Regions from separate parts of the Homo sapiens genome. Here region 1 is linked to region 2. Evidence: fine-mapped expression QTL. A gene starts in region 2. The other region holds a variant in brackets. All regions are shown on one strand. Distances are between the middles of the regions.

The links. PIP is the estimated chance that this variant, and not a neighbour inherited with it, causes the effect. A credible set is the group of variants that fine-mapping cannot tell apart.
Region 1: its variant is the best candidate, but not a certain one, in a credible set for the expression of CHRNA10 in whole blood (INTERVAL, PIP 0.60).

Annotation. Positions count from the first base shown.
Region 1 is chr11:3,745,825-3,758,364 of GRCh38, reverse strand. It overlaps NUP98 (nucleoporin 98 and 96 precursor), which reads left to right. Exons shown (of 33, transcript NM_016320.5): 11 at 4,957-5,049. Among named protein-coding and RNA genes, the nearest start is that of NUP98, 45 kb to the left of the region's middle. The variant A/G (reference allele first, on the strand shown) is at 6,423.
Region 2 is chr11:3,667,616-3,679,864 of GRCh38, reverse strand. It overlaps CHRNA10 (cholinergic receptor nicotinic alpha 10 subunit), which reads left to right and starts at 8,481. Exons shown (of 5, transcript NM_020402.4): 1 at 8,481-8,613; 2 at 9,924-10,069; 3 at 10,515-10,669; 4 at 12,101-12,249. The coding sequence starts at 8,553. It overlaps NUP98 (nucleoporin 98 and 96 precursor), which reads left to right. Exons shown (of 33, transcript NM_016320.5): 31 at 157-311; 32 at 3,245-3,356; 33 at 3,489-4,846. The coding sequence ends at 3,706.

The DNA.
Region 1 (12,540 bases), 78 kb before region 2:
TGTAATGGGACTGTTTTTTCTTTTTTCTTTCTTTTTTTTTTTTTGAGACGGAGTCTCGCTCTGTCTCCCAGGCGGGAGTGCAGTGGCCAGATATGGGCTCACTGCAAGCCCTGCCTCCTGGGTTCACGCCATTCTCCTGCCTCAGCCTCCCGAGTAGCTGGGACTACGGGCACCCACCACCACCCCCGGCTAATTTTTTCTTTGTATTTTTAGTAGAGACGGGGTTTCTCCATGTTAGCCAGGATGGTCTCGATGTTGTGACCTCATGGTCTGCCGGCATTGGCCTCCCAAAGTGCTGGGATTACAGGCGTGAGCCACCACGCCTGGCCTGTTTTTTCTTAATCATCATCTCCCTTCCCCTGAGATTTTCATACCACGCATATACTGTGTATCTGCTTATGTTGTGTGACTCTCTGGAGGGCCACAAACTATCATAATCTGTGATATTTTAGTCCCTCAAGAACCAATTTCCACTCCCTTTGAAAATGTGTGTTTTTAATAAAGCTCTTTTTTTTGTAGCATGCTTCATGTTCAAAATTAAATATTATTTCTTTTCTTTCTTTTTGAGACGGAGTTTCGCTCTTGTCACCCAGGCTGGAGTACAGTGGCGCGATTTCAGCTCACTGCAACCTCTGCCTCCTGGGTTCAAGCGATTCTTCTGCCTCAGCCTCCCAAGTAGCTGGGATTACAGGCATGCACCACCACGCCCAGCTAATTTTTGTATTTTTAGTAGAAACAGGGTTTTACCATGTTGGCCAGTCTAGTCTGGAACTCCTGACCTCAGGTGATCTGCCAGCCTCGGTCTCCCAAAGTGCTGGGATTACAGGTGTGAACCACCACGCTCGGCATTTTTGTTTTGTTTTGTTTTGTTTGTTTTTTGGGGAGACAGGATCTCTGTCTCCCAGGCTCGAGTGTAGTGGTGTGATCTCAGCTCACTGCAACCTCCGCCTCCTGGGCTCAAGTGATCCTCCCACCTCAGCCTCCTGAGTAGCTGGGACTACAGGCATGCACCACCACACCTGGCTAATTTTTGTGTTTTTGTAGAGACAGGGTTTGCCATGTCACCCAGGCTGGCCTCGAACTCCTGAGCTCAGGTGATCTGCCTGTCTTGGCTTCCCAAAGTGCTGGGATTACAGGCATGAGCCACTGCGCCCAGCCCGTTATTTTTATCTGAACACTATAAGGGTGTTTGTATAGGCTACACTTGATAAAATATATATATATACACATATAGATATAGATATAGATATATAGATATATATATATATTTTTTTTTTGAGATGGAGTCTCGCTCTGTCGCCCGGGCTGGAGTGCAGCGGCACGATCTCGGTTTGCTGCAAGCTCCGCTTCCCGGGTTCACACCATTCTACTGCCTCAGCCTCCCAAGTAGCTGGGACTGTAGGCGCATGCTGCCACGTCTGGCTAATTTTTTTGTATTCTTAATAGAGACGGGGTTTCACCATGTTAGCCGGGATGGTCTCGATCTCCTGACCTCGTGATCCGCTCACCTCGGCCTCCCAAAAGGTTGGGATTACAGGCGTGAGCCACTGCGCCCAGCCGACAAAATTTTTTTAAAGATATATTTGATGTTATATGTGATGTATATTAAGATATATATGATGTCTCCCCAAAAAACAAAAACAAGCCGAGTGTGGTGATTCACGCCTGTAATCCCAGCACTTTGGGAGACCGAGGCTGGCAGATCACCTGAGGTCAGGAGTTCGAGATAGACTGGCCAGCATGGTAAAACCCCATTTCTACTAAAAACACAAAAATTAGCTGGGCATGGTGGTGCATGCCTGTAATCCCAGCTACTCGGGAGGCTGAGGCAGAAGAATCACTTGAACCCAGGAGGCAGAAGTTGCAGTGATGGTTGCAGATTTCTGATTTGCTTAGAGGTTTTTTTTTGGTGTGCGAATATATTTACAGTCATCTTCAGTGATATGAAAATGAAAGGTGTCATCTTTATCTGAGTTGTCTCACCAACTTGTGTGCCGAATTTGAATTGTCTTTTTAATTGTAATTTGTAAAATTGAATTTTACAAGTCGATAAACTTGTCAGTGAGAATCGGAGGAAATGTGTGGTATAAACAGTGTAAGTTGGGATTTATTTCCCTTCTGTGGGTTTGAGATAGTTCACGAGTGTCTTGTTTTCTGCTGCTTATGGGACTGTAAGATCCCTTTTGATTAAATTTTTATTCAAAAAGGAAAAGAATATCTCCAAGTACATTTTTTGTGTTTTCATCAAGGAAAATTGATGATGCTTGAGTAGGCAGCACCCCATTTTTGTGGCATAGCTATTAGAAGAATTAAAGAAGAGATTCAATGAATGTCTAAGTCAAATATATTGCGATTAAGTCAGGTTACTTGATTGGATTTTATTTCATGTATTTATTTTTTTCGAGATGGAGTCTTTCTCTGTCACCCAGGCTGGAGTGCAGTGGCGTGATTTTGGCTCACTGCAACCTTCGCCTCCCAGGTTCAAGCAGCTCTCTGCCTCAGCCTCCCAAGTAGTTGGGATTATAGGCGCCTGCCACCACACCCGGCTAATTTTTGTATTTTTTGGTAGATATGGGGTTTCACCATCTTGGCCAGGCTGGTCTTGAACACCTGACCTTGTGATCCACCTGCCTTGGCCTCCCAAAGTGGCGGGATTACAGGCGTGAGCCACTGCGCCCGGCCTGCTTGCTTGAATTTTAAAATGACATGAAATACGATTGTTTTTAAACTTTTATATTCTTCAGCTTTCTTCTTGATTTTTTTCATTGAGATAATAATCCAAATACTGGCACAACAAAGTATAATATTAGTGATACTTTCATCTGTTCTAAAATAGTCTCTTTATTCTGTTTGTTATCTTTTTGGGCTACTTTTTCCTCCATGATTTTTTTTTTCTTTTGGAGACGGAGTCTTGCTCTGTTGCCCAGGCTGGAGTGCAGTGGTGTGATCTCAGCTCACTGTAACCCTCTGCCTCCTTGGTTCAAGCGATCTTCCTGCGTCAGCCTCCCAAATTGCTGGGATTCCAAGCGTGCACCACCACAGCCAGCTAATTTTTTTTTTTTTTTTCGTGGTAGTAGAGAAGAGGTTTCACATGTTGGCCAGGCTAGTCTTAAACTCCTTTCCTCAAGTGATCCACCTGCCTCTGCCTCCCAATGTGTTGGGATTACAGGCGTGAGCCATCATGCCCAGTGCTTTATGACTTTTAAATGACTTCATATGTTCTGCAAACAGGGTTTTCTGGCTAATGATTTCTTTTCTCTCATGAGAAATTAATGACATATTCATTAATTGTTTTGTTGATATTTATTTACAAAAAGAATAATGAAACTGTGGGCATAGATGAAGAAAAGAAAAGTAATGGCAGCAGTACAGAATAGGATCTTTGTTTGATACCTATGGATTTTTTTTTTTTTTTTTTTTTTTGAGATAGTGTCTCGCTATGTCGTCTAGGCTGGAGTGCAGTGGTGCGATCTCGACTTACTGCAGCCTCTGCCTCCCGGGTTTAAGCAATTCTCCTGCTTCAGCCTCCCAAGTGGTTGGGATTCTGGGTGTGCACCACCACACCCAGCTAATTTGTGTATTTTTAGTAGAGGTGGGGTTTCTCCATGTTGGCCAGACTGGCGTTGAACTTGTGAACTCCAGTGACCTGCCCACCTTGGCCTCCCAGAGTGCTGGGATTACAGTTGTGAGCCACCGTGCCTGGCTGATACCTGTGGATTTTAAAGGGAAATTATAGGATTTTGTTTAAATGGTGGGTCATAGTGAAGAAGACTTCTCACGTGTAATCAGCTACACGTTACTATCCTGGCTAGGTTCATCTATTCAAAATAAAAGCTACTGTGGAAAGTTTTGTAAGTAATTTTTTTCTTAGCAAGGACCTTTAGGTTCAGTTAAAGTGTCTTTGTTGATTGTTTTATTTTTATTTTATTTTGTATTTTTTTTGAAACAGAGTCTCACTCTATCCATGCTAGAGTGCAGTGGCACGATCTTGGCTCACTGCAACCCCCGTCTCCCGGGTTCAAGTGATACTCCTGCCTCAGCCTCCCAAGTAGCTGGGTTTATAGGCATGCGCCATCATGCCCGGCTAATTTTGTATATTTTGTAGAGACAGAGTTTCACCATGTTCCCCAGGCTGTTCTCGAACTCTTGACCTCATGATCCGCCCACCTTGGCCTCCCAAAGTGTTGGGATTACAGGCGTAAGCCACCACACCTGGCCAGTTGTTTCATTTTTTTTAGTACAAGTTAGGGGGAATTAATTTCTCTTCTAAATAAACTTGAAACTTGCATTGAAAGCTTTGGGCCTTACAAAGGCAATGTTCCCAAAGCTCAAGTGTGTTCACTTTGCTTGAATATTGATATTATCCTATATTGAATTGATATTTCTTTATTTTATTTTATTTATTTATTTATTTTTATTTGTTTTCGAGACAGAGTCCTGCTCTGTTGCCCAGGCTGGAGTGCAGTGGCGCAATCTAGGCTCACTGCAACCTTTGCCTCCTGGGTTGAAACGATTTTCCCACCTTAGCCTCCCGAGTAGCTGGGATTACAGGCACGCACCGTCATACCTGGCCTTTTTTTTTTTTTTTTTTTTTTTTTTTTTTTTTTTTGTATTTTTATAGAGACGGGGTTTCACCATCTTGGCCAGGCTTGTTTTGAACTCCTGACTTCAGGTGATCTGTCAGCCTCGGCCTCCCAAAGTGCTGGGATTACAGGCGTGAGCCACCGCGCATGGCCTTTGAATTGATATTTCAAGGCTGAAATGTAATTAAGTAAATATGAAGACTTGTTTGCATATGTGAAATTTTTTTTTTAAGTTATCCTACAAGTTAGGAGTCCTAAATATTAACTGAAAGGTTCACAACTTAAAGTCAGACTGCTTTGTGTTAAACTCCCTTATAGAGGAAATTGAGAGTTATATTAAAAGTACAATCCACTCATTCTTTTGTCTTCCTAGGTTTTGGCACAAATACCAGTGGGAATAGTATTTTTGGAAGTAAACCAGCACCTGGGACTCTTGGAACTGGGCTTGGTGCAGGATTTGGAACAGGTAAGAAACTGCTACCATGAGATCTAGGAAGTGACACAGCTTGACTTTCTAGTTTCTGGAACTTGAGAGATCTGTTTGATTATGTTACTGGAATTAAGAAGTCTACCTTTTCGTTTTTCCAGTTGCGTTTATAAGACATTCCCAGCAGTTATGCTTTACCAGGCTTTAAAATATTGGCATGTTTGTGTTAGAAGCTGTATGCTCCCTTTTCTACAAAATGTCCTCTGATAGTCCTGGTCTTTTTGGGATTTTTAGTATTTAATGTGAGAATTGTCATGAGGACATTAACTTTCAGTTTCCCCATGTTACTTTTGTAACAGGGATTTGAGACCTTAAACTGTTCATCAAAGTAAGCCCTAATAGAAAGGCAGAGCAATAAGAGCACATGCTGATGTAATTCTCCTTTGCAAGGAGAATTTCATTTAGTTCCATTGTCATATAGACCAGTGTCACCCCTTTTCCCTGATTCCTACTGTTAACAACTATTTTTCAGTGCCTTTGAAGATACTGACCCTTCTACCTGCCCAGCTGTTTTTAAACAGCTGGAGCGTGATGATGGTCATAAAATATATAAGTGTTTTAGCATGTACAGTAAAACTAGGTTGTTTAGTTAAACATAGAGTTTTGCCTACTTTTTCAATTCGTTTGACTGCAGGTGTGGTCATTTAGTTGCAAACCATTTCCATAGTCTGCTTCCACTGTCCAGTTAATCTGTTTTTTTTTTCCCCTTCTATCATCTGAGCATTCATCTGTCATTTCCTTCTTTTTTATTTATTTATTTATTTATTTATTTATTTTGGAGATGGAGTCTCACTCTGTCGTTCAGGCTGGAGTGCAGTGGTGCAGTCTCAGCTCACTGCAATCTCTGCCTCCCAGGTTGAAGCAATTCTCCTCCCTCAGCCTTCCTAGTAGCTGGGATTACAGGTGTGTATCACCATCCTTGGCTAATTATTGTATTTTTAGTAGAGATGGGGTGTCACTATGTTGGTCAGGCTGGTCTTGAACTCCTGACCTCAGGTGATCCTCCCTCCTTGGCCTCCAAAGTGCTGGGATTACAGGTGTGAGCCACCGTGCCTGGCTGTCATTTCCTTCTTAATGGAACCTCATTTTGTACTATGATCTGCTTTTGTGGTTTTTATTTTTATTTTTTTCAATTTCCCTTTTTTTTTTTTGAGATGGAGTCTTGCTCCGTCCCCCAGGCTGGAGTGCAGTGGCATAATCTCGGCTCACTGCAACCTCCACTTCCCGAGTAGCTGGGACTACAGTCGCACGCCACCGTACCCAGCTAATTTTTGTATTTTTAGTAGAGACAGGGTTTCCCCATGTTGGCCAGGCTGGTCTCGAACTCCTGACGTCGTGATCCTCCCACCTCA[A/G]CCTCCCTAAGTGCTGGGATTACAGACATGAGCCACCGCGCCCAGCCTTCAGTCTTCTTTTTAAGATAAAAGGTGTTTTATTTTGAGACAGGTTCTTGCTCTGTTACCCAGGGTGGAGTGCATTGGCATGATCACAGCTCACTGCAACCTCTACCTCCCAGGCTCAAACCATCCTCCCACCTCAGCCTCCCTAGTAACTGGGACAACAGGTGCAAGCCACCATGCTTGGCTAGTTTTTTAATATTTTGGAGAGATGAGGTCGACCTGTTTTGCCCAGGCTGGTCTCGAACCCCTGGGCTGAAGCCATCCTCCTGCCTTGAGCTCTTAAAGTGCTGGGAATATAGGCATGAGTCAGTGCTCTCTGCTTAAGATAAAAGATGTAAGTGCTGGTAAAAAGTTTTTAACAATTCAGAAATTTCATGAAAAGTCCAGTCTTTTTCAGCTGTGAAATGATTAGGGTTGTTTGGCATGTATCTTGTCAGACCCGTTTCTGTGCATTTTTCGGACATGTTTACACACACACACGTCTGTACATACATGTCTTTTATATTTAGGGTTTAGGATTATATTCTTGTTTGTTTTTTGAGTCGGAGTTTTGCTCTTGTTACCCAGGCTGGAGTGCAATGGCACAATCTCGGCTCACCGCAGCCTCCGCCTCCTGGTTTCAAGCTATTCTCCTGCCTCAGCCTCCCGAGTAGCTGGGATTACTGGCATGTGCCCACATGCCCAGCTAATTTTGTATTTTTAGGAGAGACGGGGTTTCTCCATGTTGGTCAGGCTGGTCTCAAACCCCTGACCTCAGGTGATCTGCCCGCCTCGGCCTCCCAAAGTGCTGGGATTACAGGTGTGAGCCATCGTGCCCGGCCTGGGATTATATTTTTAAATGGAAACTACACCCTGTATGAGTGACTTTTAAGCCAGAGACTGAGGTGCATTAGTTGGTTATAATTAATATAGTTGCCTGCAATCAGCATTTGAAGAAAATGAAGTAGAATTAAAAATCAGTAGGCTGGGCCTAATGGGTTATGCTTCTAATCCCAGCACTTTGGGAGGCCTAGGCAGGAGGATTGCTTGACGTCAGGAGTTTAACATCATCTTGAGCAACATAGTAAGATGCTATCAAAAAAATAAAATAAAATAGATATGCATGGTGGCATGTGCCTGTAGTCCTAGCTACTCAAGCAGCTGAATGAGATGTGCTGTGGGAGGATCGCTTCAGCCTGGGAGGTAGATGCTGCAGTGGGTTACGATAGTACCACTGCACTCCAGCCTGGGTAACAGAATGAGACGCTGTCCTAAAACAAAAAACAAAAAAAAAACATTTAAAATGTTAAGGTTAGTATCCTTTTATGAAACTTTGTCTCAGTTGTGTTTGTGTTTATGTGTTTCGGATCTCAGTGATTTTCATTGCATGTGCTGTAGTTGAAAATGTTTGAAAGCACTGTCTTACATAGTGTTCTGTGACTTGTATTTTCATTTCACATAATACCAGTTTTTCTTTTGGTCAGTACATACATATCAATCTCATTTTGAAAAACGCTATTTAGAGCTGGATGAGGTGGCTCATGCCTGTAATGCCAGGTCTTTGGGAGGCTGAGGTGGGCGGATTACTTGGGCAATGTAGGGAGACCCTCTCTGTACTAAAAATGCAAAAAGTTAGCTGGGCTTGGTGGCATGTGCCTGTAGTCCAAGCTACTCGGGAGGCTGAGGTGGGAGAATCACCTGAGCTTTGGAAGTTGAGACTGCAGTGAGCGGTGATCATTCCGCTGCACTCCAGAGAAAAGTCTCATTCCTAAAAAAAATTATTTAGTATTCCATTAAGTACACACAATTTACACACATCATACATATACCATTATTTAACATTTCACCTATTGATGGACATTTATTTGATGATGTTGGCAAAACCCTCAGTGAACATTTTTTGTTACATAATTTTGCAGGTGTTAGTTTATTGTAGGATTGATACATCAAATTGGAATTGCAGTGTTGGAATATACGCATATTTCAGATTTTGGTTGAATTTGCTAATTTGCCTTTCAAAAATACCAGTTTGTGTTGCTCACATTATATACAATGCCCATTTTTCTGTATTTTCCATACTGGGCTTTTTTGTCTTTTCATACATGACAGTAGAAATTGGTACATTCCAGTTTGCACCTCACTGATTACTGGCAAAGGTGAATATCTTTGTTTTTTTTTTTATTTGCCATTTAAGTCAGTTCTCTGTTCATAGTGTTGGATTATTGTTTCTTTTTTTCTGCACCTACCACTAACTTGAGATTCTTGTTAATTTATATTTTATTTATTTATTTATTTAGAGACCGAGTTTCTCTCGTTGCCAGGCTGGAGTACAATGGTGTGATCTCAGCTCATGGCAACCTCCGCCTCCTGGGTTCAAGTGATTCTCCTGCCTCAGCCTCCCATGTAGCTGGGATTGCAGGCATGTGCCACTGCACCCGGCTAACTGTATTTTTTTAGTTAGAGATGGGGTTTCACCATGTTGGCCAGGCTGGTGTCGAACTCCTGACCTCAAGTGATCCACCAGCCTCGGCCTCCCAAAGTGCTGGGATTACAGGCGTGAGCCTCTGTGCCCGGCCTCTTAATTTATTTATTTATTTTTTTTTTGAGACGGAGTCTCGCTCTGTCGCCCAGGCCGGACTGCGGACTGCAGTGGTGCAATCTCGGCTCACTGCAAGCTCCGCTTCCCGGGTTCACGCCATTCTCCTGCCTCAGCCTCCCGAGTAGCTGGGACTATAGGCGCCCGCCACCGCGCCCGGCTAATTTTTTGTATTTTTAGTAGAGACGGGGTTTCACCTTGTTAGCCAGGATGGTCTCGATCTCCTGACCTCATGATCCACCCGCCTCGGCCTCCCAAAGTGCTGGGATTACAGGCGTGAGCCACCGCGCCCGGCCCTCTTAATTTATTTTTAAGGATTCTTTGTGTATTGTGGATATTAACTCTTTTTGGTTATATAATTGTTTTTTTTTTTTTAATGAAAATTCCTCATTATACCCCAGAAAGCATTTCATTTGAGCTTTTCAACTTATCCAACTTCTACCACATAAATTTTGCAAGAAATAAAAACAAAAGCTCTCATTTTGTTGTACAGTGTGATCCCTAAACATATTCAGAATATATCATCTGAAATCAAATAATGGTTTCTTCCAACCCTGTAGGAAAAAATAGCTTTGGTACGGGCAAATTAAGGAAGGCTTTTCTTTTCTTTTTTTTCTTTTGCTCAAATTCAAATTAAGGAAGGCTTTTCTTTTTTTGTTGTTAATAATTTTTGTAATTTTAATAGAGATGGGGTTTCACCATGTTGGCCAGGCTGGTCTTGGACGACTGACCTCAGGTGATCTGCCTGCCTCAGCCTCCCGGCATAAGCCACTGTGCTGGGCCACAAGTTTTATTTTTTTCCAAGATGGACTCTTGCTCTGTTGCCCAGGCTGGAGTGTAGTGGTGTGATCTCGGCTCACTGCAACCTCTGCCTCCCAGGCTCAAGCAATTCTTGTGCCTCAACCTAATTTTTGTATTTTTAGTAGAAATGGGGTTTCACCATTTTGGCCAGGCTAGTCTGGAACTCCTGACCTCGTGATCCTCCTGCCTCGGCCTTCCAAAGTACTGGGATTACAGGCATGAGCCACTGCGCCCAGCCACAAGTTTTATTTTTATGTGATCAGAATTACTTTGGCTCCTGGATCTTGTAGGTTATGATTAGCAATGTCTTCCCCCATATTCCAAGACTCTATAATTCTTTTTCTGATGCTTTTGTCTCTCATTCCACAATAATGTAATATCCTAACATTTTATTTTAATATATTCTGTTTTTCTTCAACAGTTCTCTCTCACAATAAACAAACTGCATTGTGTTGCTGTTGTATATTCCTTATACATGCCTCTCCTATAAACTAAAAGATGAATACAATCAATTAAGAATTTTACACCCCCAACCTTAGCAGCAGCATATCATGTAGGGAAATGAGAATTGTGAGTCAGCAAGCACACACACTGTTGCAATTCCCTGATGATCACATCTGCTGAAGCAGGCCCTTGGGTTTGGGAGGAACATTTCCTGAGACTTGCATATAAACACCCACGTTCCTGAACTCTGCATTTCATGGTTTAACAGGTAGACTAGCACTATAGCTTCAGGCTGTATTTTTGGGAGGCAATAGCTAAGTGGGTGTTTCTCTGCAGCTTCTTATTTTCAGTGATGGTGATTCAAACTCAAGCCTCCTGTAATGTGGGCGTTTGGGTACTTAATGAGTAGTTGTTACACAAATATTAAATGTACAGATACATAAGATATTTTTGTATGCTTCGATGTAAGAAACCAATCTTAGTATAAAAGGTTTTATACTGACCCTTGGCATGTGATTTTCTCCCGCCCCATGTGTTGAGACTAAGAAACATTCATTAACTCATGGACATAACAATTTCTTGTTTTATAGTGATATTAACATCATTAGCACTATCAATTGCACACCACTGCCTTGGTTATTTAGTAATAATAATAAACCTTTGTTCTACAGGTTTTCCTTGAAGTAATGGCTACATATAGGAAGGTTGATTGTAATACTAAGAGAGACATAGAAAAATCTTTCTGGTGCTAATAGATGCCTCAGATAAATTTAAATTCTAACAATTTTGGAATATCTCAAAAGGAAAATAACCATTTTCAATTTTTTCTTGATTTTCTTTGGAGTTTCTAAGGCCACTATTACCATTTTGCCCCCCATATAGCTTCTTTATAACTGCTACAGCTAATCATAAATATAGCACATTTTTCCTATCTTGACAAATTACCAGAACTTTATTGTATCACACAACATCACACTCAGAATGTCTCTCAAATTGTGGACCATTACTTCTTTCATTAAACATAAAAAGCCATTTGTGCATAAAACAAGGCAGATCTGGATAAAAATACCTATTTTTCCATTGCAATAGTCAGTAGTCAAGTCATTTTATGATAATCCCTTTACAGACAACTCAAACCTCACAGTACTTTTTTTTTTTTTTTTTGAGACTGCGTTTTGCTCTTCTTGCCCAGGCTGGAGTGCAATGGCATGATCTCGGCTCACTGCAACCTCCGCCTCCCGGGCTCAAGCGATTCTCCTGCTTCAGCCTTCCCGAGTAGCTGGGATTACAGGCATGTGCCACCACGACCAGCTAATTTTGTATTTTTAGTGGAGACAGGGTTTCTCCATGTTTGTCAGGCTGGTCTCGAACTCCTGACCTCAGGTGATCTGCCCTCCTCGGCTTCCCACAGTGCTAGGATTACAGGCGTGAGCCACCGCGCCCAGCCCACAGTACCTTTTTTTAATTCTTCTGTGGATTACTGAAATACAGTACAGTGATTTTAGAATGATTCATGGGTCATCGTCCAGGGATGCTGTAAAGGTGAGGGCAATACACATTTAGAGTAGAATTTTTCATCTATTTTATATATTTGAGTTTCACCTAAGTTTTTGTTTGGAGGCAAGGAGGTATTAGACTACCAGAAAATAAACAATTCTGTAGTTTGTGCTGTAAACTATTTCCTTTGATGAAGTAATATAATTTTAGTATTTCTTGGAGCTTGCGTTAATTACTAATGGTTTAGAACTTTAAAAGAAGTCTTATTCTTTGTCCCAAAGCTGTCTTTTTTTTTTTTTTTTTTTTTTTTTGAGATAAAGTTTTGCTCTTGTTGCCCAGGCTGGAGTGCAATGGCGTGATCTTGGCTCACCGCAACCTCCACCTCCCGGGTTCAAGCGATTCTCCTGCCTCAGCCTCCCGAGTAGCTGGGTTACAGGCATGTGCCACCACACCCAGCTAATTTTTGTATTTTTAGTAGAGACAGGGTTTCTCCATGTTGGTCAGGCTGGTCTTGAACTCCTAACTTTAGGTGATCCACCCGCCTCGACCTCCCAAAGTGCTGGGATTACAGGCGTGAGGCACCGTGCCCGGCCCTGTTGTCTTATTTTTAATGAGGTTGGACAGTCAGTAATTTGTTCAGTAGTCATCCTTACTGATTTATATTGTGTGGGTTGTCTTGGTATAAACTTTCTGTTCTTTTTTGATTGTGATCTCAAAGCAGTTCCCATACAATATTTTTGACCTGCAAGTATTATA
Region 2 (12,249 bases):
ACCCACAGTATCTTTGAGGTATGCCTGTATGTGCTTTTACTTCTGAAGTCCAGCCAACATTATTTCTCCTTCCTTTCTGTCTTCCTGCCATGTCTTCTGTACTTTTGGAAACTATGCACTTGTGCAGACATTGTGCTCAATACTTTGTTTCTTCAGATGCCATCATTAATGAGAACTATGACTACCTGAAGGGGTTCTTGGAAGACCTGGCACCTCCAGAGCGCAGCAGCCTAATTCAGGATTGGGAAACATCTGGGCTTGTTTACCTGGACTATATTAGAGTCATTGAAATGCTCCGCCATATACAGCAGGTACCTGAGATCCTGAAACTGCTGCCTGATTTTCCTTTTCTCAGGCCCTTAAATCTTCAGATACCTCACAAGGCCTTAGTATACACTTGAGAATGCACTGACAGAGATAGCACTGTCAAAGCAGGCATCTTGCTGAGGCTCATTTGATATAACCGTTTCTGACAGCTATATCGAAACTTAAAAATGCTATTTTATGTTGATTACCAACTAGTATGTGCAATAGACATTCCTGAGGCTTGTCCATAGACAGTCTCTTCCCCTTGTTCAGTCCTAGTTTGAGTGAGAAGCCCAAAGATGAGAGATAAAATAAGAATGGAGATTTGGTGAGGGTGAGGATAGCTGTTTTACACATCATTTGGCATGTTTTAAAATTGCAAATATGGGTTTTAAAGTCAATGTCTTCGGTCAGTTTTTTTTTTTTTTTTTTTTTTGGAACAGAGTCTTGCTCTGTCATCCAGGCTGGAGTGCAGTGGTGTGATCGTGGCTCACTGCAACCTCTGCCTCCCAGTCTTAAGTGAGTCTCATGCCCCAGCCTCCCAAGTAGCTGGGAGTATAGGGTGTGTGCCACCACACGCAGCTAACTTTTGTATTTTTAGTAGAGATAGTGTTTCACCACATTGGCCAGGCTGGTCTTGAATTCCTGGCCTCAAGTGATCGGCCCACCTTGGCCTCCCAAATTGCTGGGATTACAGGCATGAGCTTACCGCACGCCTGCACGCAGCCTTAAGGTCAGTCTTTGTAGTCGTAAAATGAGTCTCCACTGCTTGCTTATGGTGCAAAAACCAAACTCATTATAATAAATATAGGATTCAAGTCCTTTTAGAGGCTTTTACCTTTCCTGCCTTACTCCTACCACTCTTATTCCACGTTCCAGCCTTGCTAGCCTGCTGTACTCACACTAAATTACTTCTGGTGTTTCTAACAAACCATATTATGTTCCACACTACCTAGCACACTTAAACTCATCCTTTTAAGATCTAGGTTGCTGTTACCCCTACTTCTCTCTGCTTTTCCCCAGAGATAATTAATTGCACTTTCTTACTACCAAGATACTTAGTACATTATTCTACTAGTGCACCTGTCAGACCATATTGTAGTTACTTATTCATATTTTCAGGTTGCTATAAGCCCCTTTTGGGAAGGTCTTTTACGGTTACAGGCAATAGAGTGTAGAGGTTAACAGCTCAAGTTCTGGAAGCAGACTTATAGATTCAATTTGTGGCTTCCAAATTCACTGGCTATGTAATCTTGAGCAAGTTAACTACCTCTCTCGTCTGAAAGAAAAAGGTGGGTGGGGTAGACAGTAGTACAGATTATAGTTCATATTGACAGATTTTCACAAAGATTAAACAAAATCTACATGAAGTGTTTTACATAGTACCTTTCATGTACTAAATGCCTTTTTTTTTTTTTTTTTAGGCAGAGTTTTACTCTGTCACCCAGGCTGGAGGGCAGTGGCACAATCTCAGCTCACTGCATCTCCCAGCTTCAAACAATTCTCCTGCCTCAGCCTCCCCAGTAGCTGGGATTACAGGCGTGTGCCACCACACCCAGCTTTGTGTGTGTGTGTGTGTATTTTAGTAGAGACGGGGTTTCACCATGTTGGCCAGGCTGGTCTCAAACTCCTGACCTCGGCCTCTACTAAATGCTTAATAATTGTTATCTATTATTATCCTCATCAAAGTTCCAACTCCTAGTACAGTGCCTGGCACATAATAGACATAATTCAATGTTTGCTGTACTTTTAGTATGAATCAAGAACATCATTTCTAAATAATCACTTGAAGAAACCACTTTCTCATTGAATATTGAGTAATTCATTCACACAACCTATTATGGAGAACTCACTGTATGCCAAGCACTGTAGTGGGTTTGGGGAATATAAAGGTAAACAGTATGTGTTCTGCCCTTACCAAAATAATGATTTTGTGGGGGAGATACATACAAGTAAAGCAGCAATTACTATAGCTTGATAAGTATAGGGATTAAGCAAAGGGTACTATCAATGTGCCAGCACATAGCTGGATGTGGTGGTGCATGACTGTAATCCTAGTACTTTGGGAGGCTGAGGCAGGAGGATTGCTTGAGACCAGCCTGAGCAACATAACGAGACCCCCCTTCTCCCAAAAAAAAAAAAAAAAAACCTATGTTACATAAAAACTCTCTAGTATTATCTTGTTCTGCTTCTTCTCCTTACCCTACATGTCACCATGTAAATCTCCTTTGAATTCCCACCTTTGGGGGTTTTAGCTGTCTTCTCTTTGCCTGGAAAGCTGAGCTCTCTCCTTGTTATTCAGGTCTCAATTTAAATATGACCTCCTTAAAGAAGCCTCTCTTGGTCCTCCAGTCTCAAGTAGCTATCCAGTTTCTCTCTGCCACATCCACCTGTTTAAATTATCTACATGGCTTGTGATTTTTCAGGATTTATTACTGTTTTGTGTTTTCTTATTTATTTTCTATCAGTTTCATGAGAGCAAATAACCTGTCTTGCTCTTGATCCTCCTGCCCCCTGCACACAGCTTTTTTGGTGTTTTAGAAAAGGCTATAAACTTGGAGTCAGGGGACCTAAATTAAATGTTGGTTCTGGCTGCATTTTTTACTTCCTTGTGTGCTCTTTAGAAGTCATACCATCTCTCTGAACCCAATTTATCTTGATTTTTGGTGCTGTGTTATTAAAGCTTGCTGTATAGTTCGGGATCTCAAGACTTTTCCTAGTCCAAGGCTAGGTAACTGTGTTACCTTCCTCTTGGCTATTACTGCATAATTAGTGCCTTGTCCTCCACTAGATGGTGGTGGCTTGGCCCTGTGTCATCATCTTGGATTTTCCCCTCCCTCACCTCACTGTTGTTTCAAGGTTTTGTGTAGAGTCTATAGGTGGGATTGGAGTGATAGGAACTCCCCTTGGATTAATTGGCTTCTCTGCTTCTTTGTAGGTGGATTGCTCAGGTAATGACCTGGAGCAGTTACACATCAAAGTGACTTCACTGTGCAGTCGGATAGAGCAGATTCAGTGTTACAGTGCTAAAGATCGCCTGGCTCAGTCAGGTAAGCCTCTAACCTCCTCACTCTTTCTGCCTTCTTGCTTCCTGTTTTTATGATTATTACACCCCACCCTCAGTGCCTACCACCCTTCTCCAGACCCCATGCTCAGTGCTTGACTCTAGTTTTTCTCTCTAGACATGGCCAAACGTGTAGCCAACCTGCTGCGCGTGGTGCTGAGTCTGCATCATCCTCCTGATAGAACCTCCGACTCAACACCAGACCCTCAGCGAGTCCCTTTGCGCCTCTTGGCTCCCCACATTGGCCGGCTTCCCATGCCTGAGGACTATGCCATGGACGAACTGCGCAGCCTTACCCAGTCCTATCTGCGAGAACTGGCTGTTGGGAGCCTGTGAGCCCCAGGCACTTTGCATCACAGTCACATGCCCATTCACACCACACAGAGGTTCCCTGCCTTGTTTGGATTGGCACTGTTTGCCATTCTCTGGGTTGGCTGTGGCATCTACCCTCCCTCCCTGCTGCCAGAAGCAGCATCCTCCACTTGTTCAGGGCTTTTCTTAATACTGAACGTAGCATAAGGGCTTCTGGAACCCAGAAGAGGAGACAGTTTACCATCCTCAAGATCATTCAGTGTTTTTCCTTTAAAAAAATGGTCAATAAAGCTCCTTTGGCAGAATCCCCCAAAGAACCAGGGTATTCTTTTTCCATCCCTAGCCATTCTGGATCTTGTGACCCTCCATGCCAACCAGCTTCCCTACTCCTACCCTGGCCCTTTTATACTAGGACTCCTTAGGAGGAGTGAGACAGGTGATAATGGATCCTTAACAGATGAACTATCCACAGAAGGAAGAGGGATCCGTCTCTTAAGTAATTGGTTAGTTAACACTGAATTTTGGAGGCAAAGGAGGGTTGGCCTGAGTTAGGAAACAAAATGGGATCTTTCTGACACACTTAGGGCAGAAGTGAATGCCTGTCACGGAGGGATTGATCTTCAGGGCTGTTTTTGTTCCTGCCTTTAGAGTTCCATGAACACCATACCTTTGCTACTACTATGTGCAGGAACCCTTGGTCACATGTGACATGTCTGTGGGAAGCTCCCAGAGTTTGGTTTGGTCCCTGGTTTTCAGTCTTGCTGAGACTCTGTCTGGATTTGCCTGCAGAGTTTGGATAAAAAATGGCAGGTTGGGTAACCCTCCCTGTTCATCCCATGTTAGCTCCAAAGCATTTCCCACCCTCCATCTACCCCTTCCAGAAGCAAAAACAAACCATGACTGAGGCAGGCATGGAGTTGGGCGTTAGGGGCAGGCAGAGGGCCTTTGCTACACTGCTGACAGCTATAGGGAGCCCCAGGTAATGGCATGAGATAGCTGGTGTTAGGGCTATCTCAGGCAATATGGCCACACCTGGGTCTTTATGCATGAAGATAATGTAAAGGTTTTTATTAAAAAATATATATATGTATAAATAAATGATCTAGATATTTTCCTCTTTTTCTGAAGCTACTTTCTTAAAAAATAAATAAAATGTTTATAGCATTCCTGGTATTGGCTTTCCCTTTGTATTTTTGAGCCTTCTTACCCTGAGGATCTTTATGGTGGCCTTGTTTGATTTAGCCTGTTTTTGAATTTGCCTTCTAAATGGAGACAGGCCATGGGCTAAAGAGAACAATTGGGTGCTAAACTGAAAGATAGATTAGCCCAAAGGCTAGATTTATAAGGGGAAATTTAGGGGCAAGGGAGTTGATTATTGATTAATACTGATTGCTGTACATATATTTATGCACATAGATTCCCGGGTCTCAAATTGCCCAATAGAATATACCATTCAAAGCCTCCTCGCTCTTCTACTATAGTGGTTTTGTTTTTAAACCCTGAGTGACGCTTCACCTTTCTAAATCAGATTCCCTTTTGTAAAGGGGATAATGATTGCTGATGTTACTTCACACAGGGCTATTTTCAAGAGGAATCAATTGAGTAGCATGAGTACTATTCCAGATCTTATTTTGATCTGTCAAGCTGAAGATGTGAGCAAATTCCAATTAAGATTAGACCAAAGACTTCTGAGACTTTCAGGAATTCAGGGATGAGAAAGCAGAGTGGGTCAGCTCTGTTGTCTGGAACTTCCATTTAACTTAGATGCCTCAGGATAGGGGTTACTCAGCTGGAATCCCCTCCACTACTGACTCACTATGTGAACCTGAGTGAGTCACAAAACATAGTTGGACTTCCAGCAAAGAACACCTGACCTGGTTTCCTTACCAGAGGAATGTTTCAGAAAGTGAGTATGCTATAGAAATGGTTAGCTCTTAGCAGTGTTCGGAATTGTGGGCCAGGAGTGGTGGCTCACACCTGTAATCCCAGCACTTTGGGAGACCAAGGTGGGAGGATCGTTTGAGGCCAGGAGTTCAAGACCACCCCAGGCTACATGACAAGACTCTGTCTCTAAAAAAAAATAAAATTAGTTGGGCATGGTGGTGTGTGTGCATAGTCCCAGCTACTCAAGAGGCCTAAGCAAGAGGATCGCTTGAGCCTAGGAGCTGAAGGCTGCAGCGAGCCATGATTGTGCCACTGCACTCCAGCCTGGGCAACAGAGCAAGAAAAAAAAGGTTCTCAATCAAAGGTTTATCATAGAAGCCATGTTGTGCATAAAAGAGAATATCAACTTCCAGTTCAAGATAAGGGTGATGAACAATCTCTTCTTTTTTTTTTTTTTTTTTGAGACAGAGTCTCGCTCTGTCCCCCAGGCTGGAGTGCAGTGGGGCACGATCTGCAAGCTCCACCTCCCGGGTTCATGCCATTCTCCTTCCTCAGCCTCCCAAGTAGCTAGGACCACAGGCACCCGCCACCATGCCCGACTAATTTTTTTTTGTATTTTCAGTAGAGACGGGGTTTCACCGTGTTAGCCAGGATGGTCTCGATCTCCTGACCTCGTGATAAGCCTGCCTTGGCCTCCCAAAGTGCTGGGATTACAGACGTGAGCCACCGCGCCAGGCCTGAACAATCTCTTCCACATCCCAAAATCCCGTTGAAATAGTAAAAAATGTTTTAATTTCAAAAAAAATTCTCAAAAACATAAAACAGGAACCAGTTACCTCAACATTCGATAGATCTGTGGAATCTACAACATTCAAATAACTTATTTTCTCAACAGAACCCAAAGTTAACAGAGGTCTGGAGAATTAAATATTGGAATAATTAAGCAAAGGCCTGCAGAGTATCTGCTCTTTTTAGATGTTTCATCTTTAGCTCAGTTTTGTTAATTTGTATTTCCAGAAAATTGTTCCAGATTTTTTGTTATTCAAATAACCAGTCCTTAGACGTATTAATCAATTTTACTGGAGTTCTGTATAATCTTAATTTCTGCTTTAAATGTTCATTTCTTAGGCTTTCCTAAGGATTTGTTAAACCTTGTATTGGTTGGGCACGATGGCTCACGCCTGTAATCCCAGCACCTCGGGAGGCTGAGGAGGGAGAATCCCTTGAGCCCAGGAGTTTAAGACCAGCCTAGGCAACATAGGGAGACCTTGTCTCTTAAAAAATGAACAAAAATTAGCTGGGTGGTGTGCACCTTTAGTTCCAGCTATTCAGGAGGCTGAGGTGGCAGGATGGCTGTAGGGTATTTTGGTAGTTGTTCTTTAACAAGTTAAGGACAGTTCCCCTCTACTAGCTTGAATAAGTGAATGTTGGATTTCAATTTGAAATGATGTGAAACGCTTGTGTGTTAGGAAGGTGGTTGGAGATAAGCAGAGTACCTGGGAGAGGGGACGGGTGGAGAAAGTGCAGGGAATCACTGGCATATCCACGATGCCCAAAGTCATGGCTATGGATGTGATTGCCAGGGAAGTATGTGCTGCTGTTGGTCAGGCAACTGGTCAGCTTGAACAAAAATAATCAAAACTCTGTGCATGATAAATACCTGTGACCTGAGGATAGCCTGGCTACCTTACTGGGACCACAGTGTAAATATTGTTGATGACCTGCTGTACCTTAGGCACCGTGCTAGACAGTGCCTTGCACTATCAGGTTATCTCATTTAAATCCTTGCAGTTTTCAAGATGAGTACTGTTAATCCCATTACCAGATTGAGAGAACAGAAACCCAGAGAGTTTAAATATCTTACCCAAGTGAGAGCGCTCATAAGACAGGGCCGAAAGTGACTGAATGCTTGCCCTCTTCTCCCACACTGCCCACAGTGTTTGGGCAAGGTGAAAAAACAGGCTCAGATGGGAATGACTGCAGGGAGTCTGAGGAGAGGATGTGGGCTCCATCTTCTGCTCCACTGGGTCATCTGGAGTGGCCTGAGGCTCAGCACTACTCCCACCAGGAGGGAAGGGCTTGCTTGACCCAAAGTGCCTAGCCTGGAGTGTCTAGTCCCGCACTGCAAGGAGAGCTGCAGGTCTAAGGCAAACCTCCACCTCCAGAATTCAGGCAATGGTGGCTAAGATGAGAGGACAGTTATCCATCCACTGACCCTGGCCCCTCACACTCTTAAGCCCTGGTCTTCCACATACCCTGACCCAGCATACCTGTACTCTCCAACACCCGAGGATGGGCCTGAGCTGAGTCTGTGTGCTGCTTTACAGAGTTTGAATAATTCAAGCCCCAGAGGCCCGAGGTATCAGTTTCCGTTGCTCTGTTGTCATAGGCACGGTGTAATTAAGCTAATGAAAGGGCAGAGAGGGAGGGGCTGTGGTCCTGTGCCTCGGACGACTCTGGGCTGATCAAGGGAGGAGTCCCTGGTCCCTGTTCTGCTGAGAGAGCAGCAGGCCCATCTAGAGTCCAGGTGTGGGGAATGGAAGAAGGAAGGAATGAGGGATGAAACAGAAGTAGGAGAAAGGGAGAGAGAGTGGAAAGAGGCAGGCAGGGGATGATCAGAGTCAGGGAGGCAGAGAGACCAAGAAAGTTACAGACGGAAAGAGAAGGAAGCAGAAACAGAGTGAAAGACAAAGCAGGTGGGGAGCATAGGAAAGGGCAGAGGCAGAGGCCAGAAGAGGCAAGGACCAGCAGAGAAGAAGAAAGACCAAGTACTAAAATCCAGGGGCAGGCACAAATTGGAGGGTCAGAAGACTGGAGGGGCTGCAGGGCTCGCTGGAGGGTGGCTGGACCCACCAGAGATCTGTCTTACTTCTGACTTCTAGGTACTGTCCACACCATCCTTGCCAGCTGGGCCTAATTTTGCCCTAGGTCTGGCCAGGAGGCCTCACATCCAGAGACCTGCCCCCGCTCTTGCAGTGCCAGGGCCATGGGGCTCCGGAGCCACCACCTCAGCCTGGGCCTTCTGCTTCTGTTTCTACTCCCTGCAGGTATGAAGCTCAGTACACCAGCCCTGGCCTCTCCTGGTGGTGCTACTATTCCTGTTCTCCCAAAATCCCTTTCCATGTAGTCTCTCTTGTGTTTCTCCTCAGTACCTGTTCTGAGAACAAGCTCTCTATTTGGGGAGTGTGGAGGAGAGGGGTGCTGAAGTGCGTGAGAGGAGACTTGCCTGGCTAGGGTGGAAACAGTGAGCGGGGAGCTTCCAGAGACAGGGCTGGGAAAATCAGAGGGGCCAGATGTTGAAGGGCCTGCCGGCCAGGCCAGGTCTTTCTCCTGCAGATGACGGGGAGCACTGAAAGGTTTCAGCAGCATACTAGCCTGGTCAGATGTGCATGCTTAAAAGCGTGGTCCTGGGGCATGGGAGGGGTAGAAGAAGGTGAGCCTTTGGGGAAAGGGAGACAGTGAAGGGAGGGCCCTGACCTGGAGGGGAGAGGGTAGACTCAAGACGATGTTTCGCAAAATCTGGAGGATTTGAATGATCTGACAGGATCTGGAGATTAACTGGATTCCCCGAGGAGGAGGCAGCAGAGGGAGAAGGGAGGGATAATTCCCAGATTTCCAACTAAGGTCACTGTTGAAGCTGAGGGCATGCTATTTGCTGAGATAGGGAACATGGGATAGGAAGCAGGTTTCAGAGCATGGAGGGAGGAAGCGAGTTCATATTTTGGACCCTCAGAGTTGAAGGTGCCTGTGGGAAACTCAGGAGTGGACTGTACTCTATTGGGGTCTGGAGCTCAGGAGAAAAATCTGGGATGAAGAAAAAGATGGGAGCCAAGGACAGGATTCATGGGAACAATGTTTAGGTCAGGGATTGAGGAAAATTTGTGTCAGTAAAGCCTGGGGAAGTGTGTTTTCAGAGTGAGGGAGTGTTCCATCGCATCAGAAGTTTTGAAGAAACCAGCTCGAGATGGAGAAGTGGAAACAGGTTTGAGAGATACTGGAGGGGGCAGAGCAGTGGGGTTTAGAATCCCTGGGTGAAAGTCTGGACTCTTGTGGCTTATTTGGGCCCCTCTAGCATTTGTGGAGAGGCAGGCAGACTCCAGGTCCTTGAAAAGGGGAGGGTGGAGGAGAAATTTGTCAGCCTGGCGCCAGAAGATAGTACCAGTTCACTCCATGGCCTTTACCTCATGTGTCCCTGCAGGCAGGCCAGGGAGGAACTAGAGCCACAGCTAGAGCAAGAGAAGGCAGACACCAGGAGGACACTCATAAGGACAGGGCCCCAGCCCTGGGAGTGGAGGGTGTGAGCAGAGGCCCTGGGACTAGGGCCTGGGATGGACAACCCTCCTTACTGACCCTCCAGAGTGCCTGGGAGCTGAGGGCCGGCTGGCTCTCAAGCTGTTCCGTGACCTCTTTGCCAACTACACAAGTGCCCTGAGACCTGTGGCAGACACAGACCAGACTCTGAATGTGACCCTGGAGGTGACACTGTCCCAGATCATCGACATGGTGCGTTGTGGTGGTGGTACAGCTGTGGAGTCTTACCTGTCACAGTGTCAAGAAATGAAGGGGTGAGAGACTGGGATTATTCTCCATGGAATTTCTTTTCTGTAAATGTTAATATTAACAAAGGTAGCAGTTACAAACTGTTGGGTACTGACTGTTGGGTACTGAGTATTGGGTGCCTACCTCGTGCCCAATATTTTGTTCACCTGAACTTACTGAATCCCTGCTAAGCAGGGATTCTCACCCCATATTCCTGCTGAGGAAACAGGGGCAGAAAAGAGAAGAGCCCACTAAGGTCACATGGCAAGGTCAGGTCTGGGTGGGAACTGGACGGTATGGACAAGTCAGGTTTGTGGGTGCTGACCAGAGCCCTGCAGGGGAGTGTGCACAGACAGGGCAGGATATGCATATACATGTCCACATCTCTGCCATTCCCTGCCCCCACTAGGATGAACGGAACCAGGTGCTGACCCTGTATCTGTGGATACGGCAGGAGTGGACAGATGCCTACCTACGATGGGACCCCAATGCCTATGGTGGCCTGGATGCCATCCGCATCCCCAGCAGTCTTGTGTGGCGGCCAGACATCGTACTCTATAACAAGTACTGCCTATCTGGGCCCCTCCTCTCTCTTACCCCTCTCTAGACTTGCCCTTAGCTGTGGGGGTGTAGTGATCCCCTCTCCCTACCACATAACCTGGTTGCCACGCTGCCCTGGAAGCTTTTCCCCAGGACCCTTCTAAGCTGCCAGGCACTCAGCCCCTCCATGGCACCCCCACTTTAGGCTATCCCAGGCCAGCCCAGGCTGAACGTCTCCTCGGAACCTACTGTGTGGTCCAGGGCAGTTGTCTGAATCACAAGGGCCTCTCTAGGGCACACTTTTAGCTCTAAGTCTCTCAGGGCTCCCCGAAGAGCCTGTGTAAGGGTCTCTTTCCTCCAGGACATAGCCCTCTGGAACACTGCTTTATGTCTCCTTGACCAGTTCCGTGTCTCCCAGCCAGCACATAGCTCTGCATATTTTCTCTGGGGCCCTTCTACAAGTTTTGCAGATGTCCCCCAAGGGAAGTCACTGTGTGTCCCGGAGCTACCTCTGGGTTCTGCAGAGGCCTTTTTATACATCCTCTGGCTACGTCTGTGTCCCTTCTGGGCCCTTCAGGCACCACCCCTTCCAGGCCTCGAAAGGCAGCGGGTCTCTCTAGGTGCACTCCACCCTCTGTGTTGCTTTGTTCTGAAAACAAGAATCAAATTAACGAAAAAAAAACAAGCACAAGTTTATTTATTTATTTGAGACACAGTCTCGCTCTGTCGCCCAGGCTGGAGTGCAGTGGCGCTATCTCGGCTCACTGCAAGCTCCGCCTCCCGGGTTCACGCAATTCTCCTGCCTCAACCTCCCAAATAACTGGGACTGCAGGCACCCGCCACCACGCCCAGCTAGTTTTTTGTATTTTTAGTACAGACGAGGTTTCACCGTGTTAGCCAGGGTGGTCTCGATCTCCTGACCTCGTGATCCGCCCACCTCGGCCTCCCAAAGTGCTGGGATCACAGGCGTGAGCCACCGCACCCAGCCACAAGCAGAAGTTTATTAATCTGCTGTACCCATCATGGGAGAGGCCTTAGTTCAAAAGTATTTCTCTCTGAAGGCAGTGACTTAGGGGCCTTGCTTAAATAGAAATTCAAGAAAGAGCCAGTAAGTTATAAATAGTGGCAAGACAAAGGACAGCCACCTTTAAAAGGCGGGAAAACGTGGAAAGAGGGTAAAATCTGTTTCCAGATTCCTCTGGCACCTACTGGTGCCCTTTGGATAAGCAAGTGCTGACTCCAGCAAGGAAGGGCTGATGTCCTGCCATCAGGCCAGCAGACGCTGGGGCCAGGTGCTCCCCTGCGTCGTGAGTGTCTCGAACTTAACGAGCCTCAATATTCTGGGGAGAAGTTTTGGTTTCTTTCAGCCCCTGGGGGTCTGCCCTGGGCTCCCGGCCTCCGGGGCTGCTCCTCAGGCTGGACAGCCTAGGTGAGCCCTGCCCCGCCTGCCCCCAGAGCCGACGCGCAGCCTCCAGGTTCCGCCAGCACCAACGTGGTCCTGCGCCACGATGGCGCCGTGCGCTGGGACGCGCCGGCCATCACGCGCAGCTCGTGCCGCGTGGATGTAGCAGCCTTCCCGTTCGACGCCCAGCACTGCGGCCTGA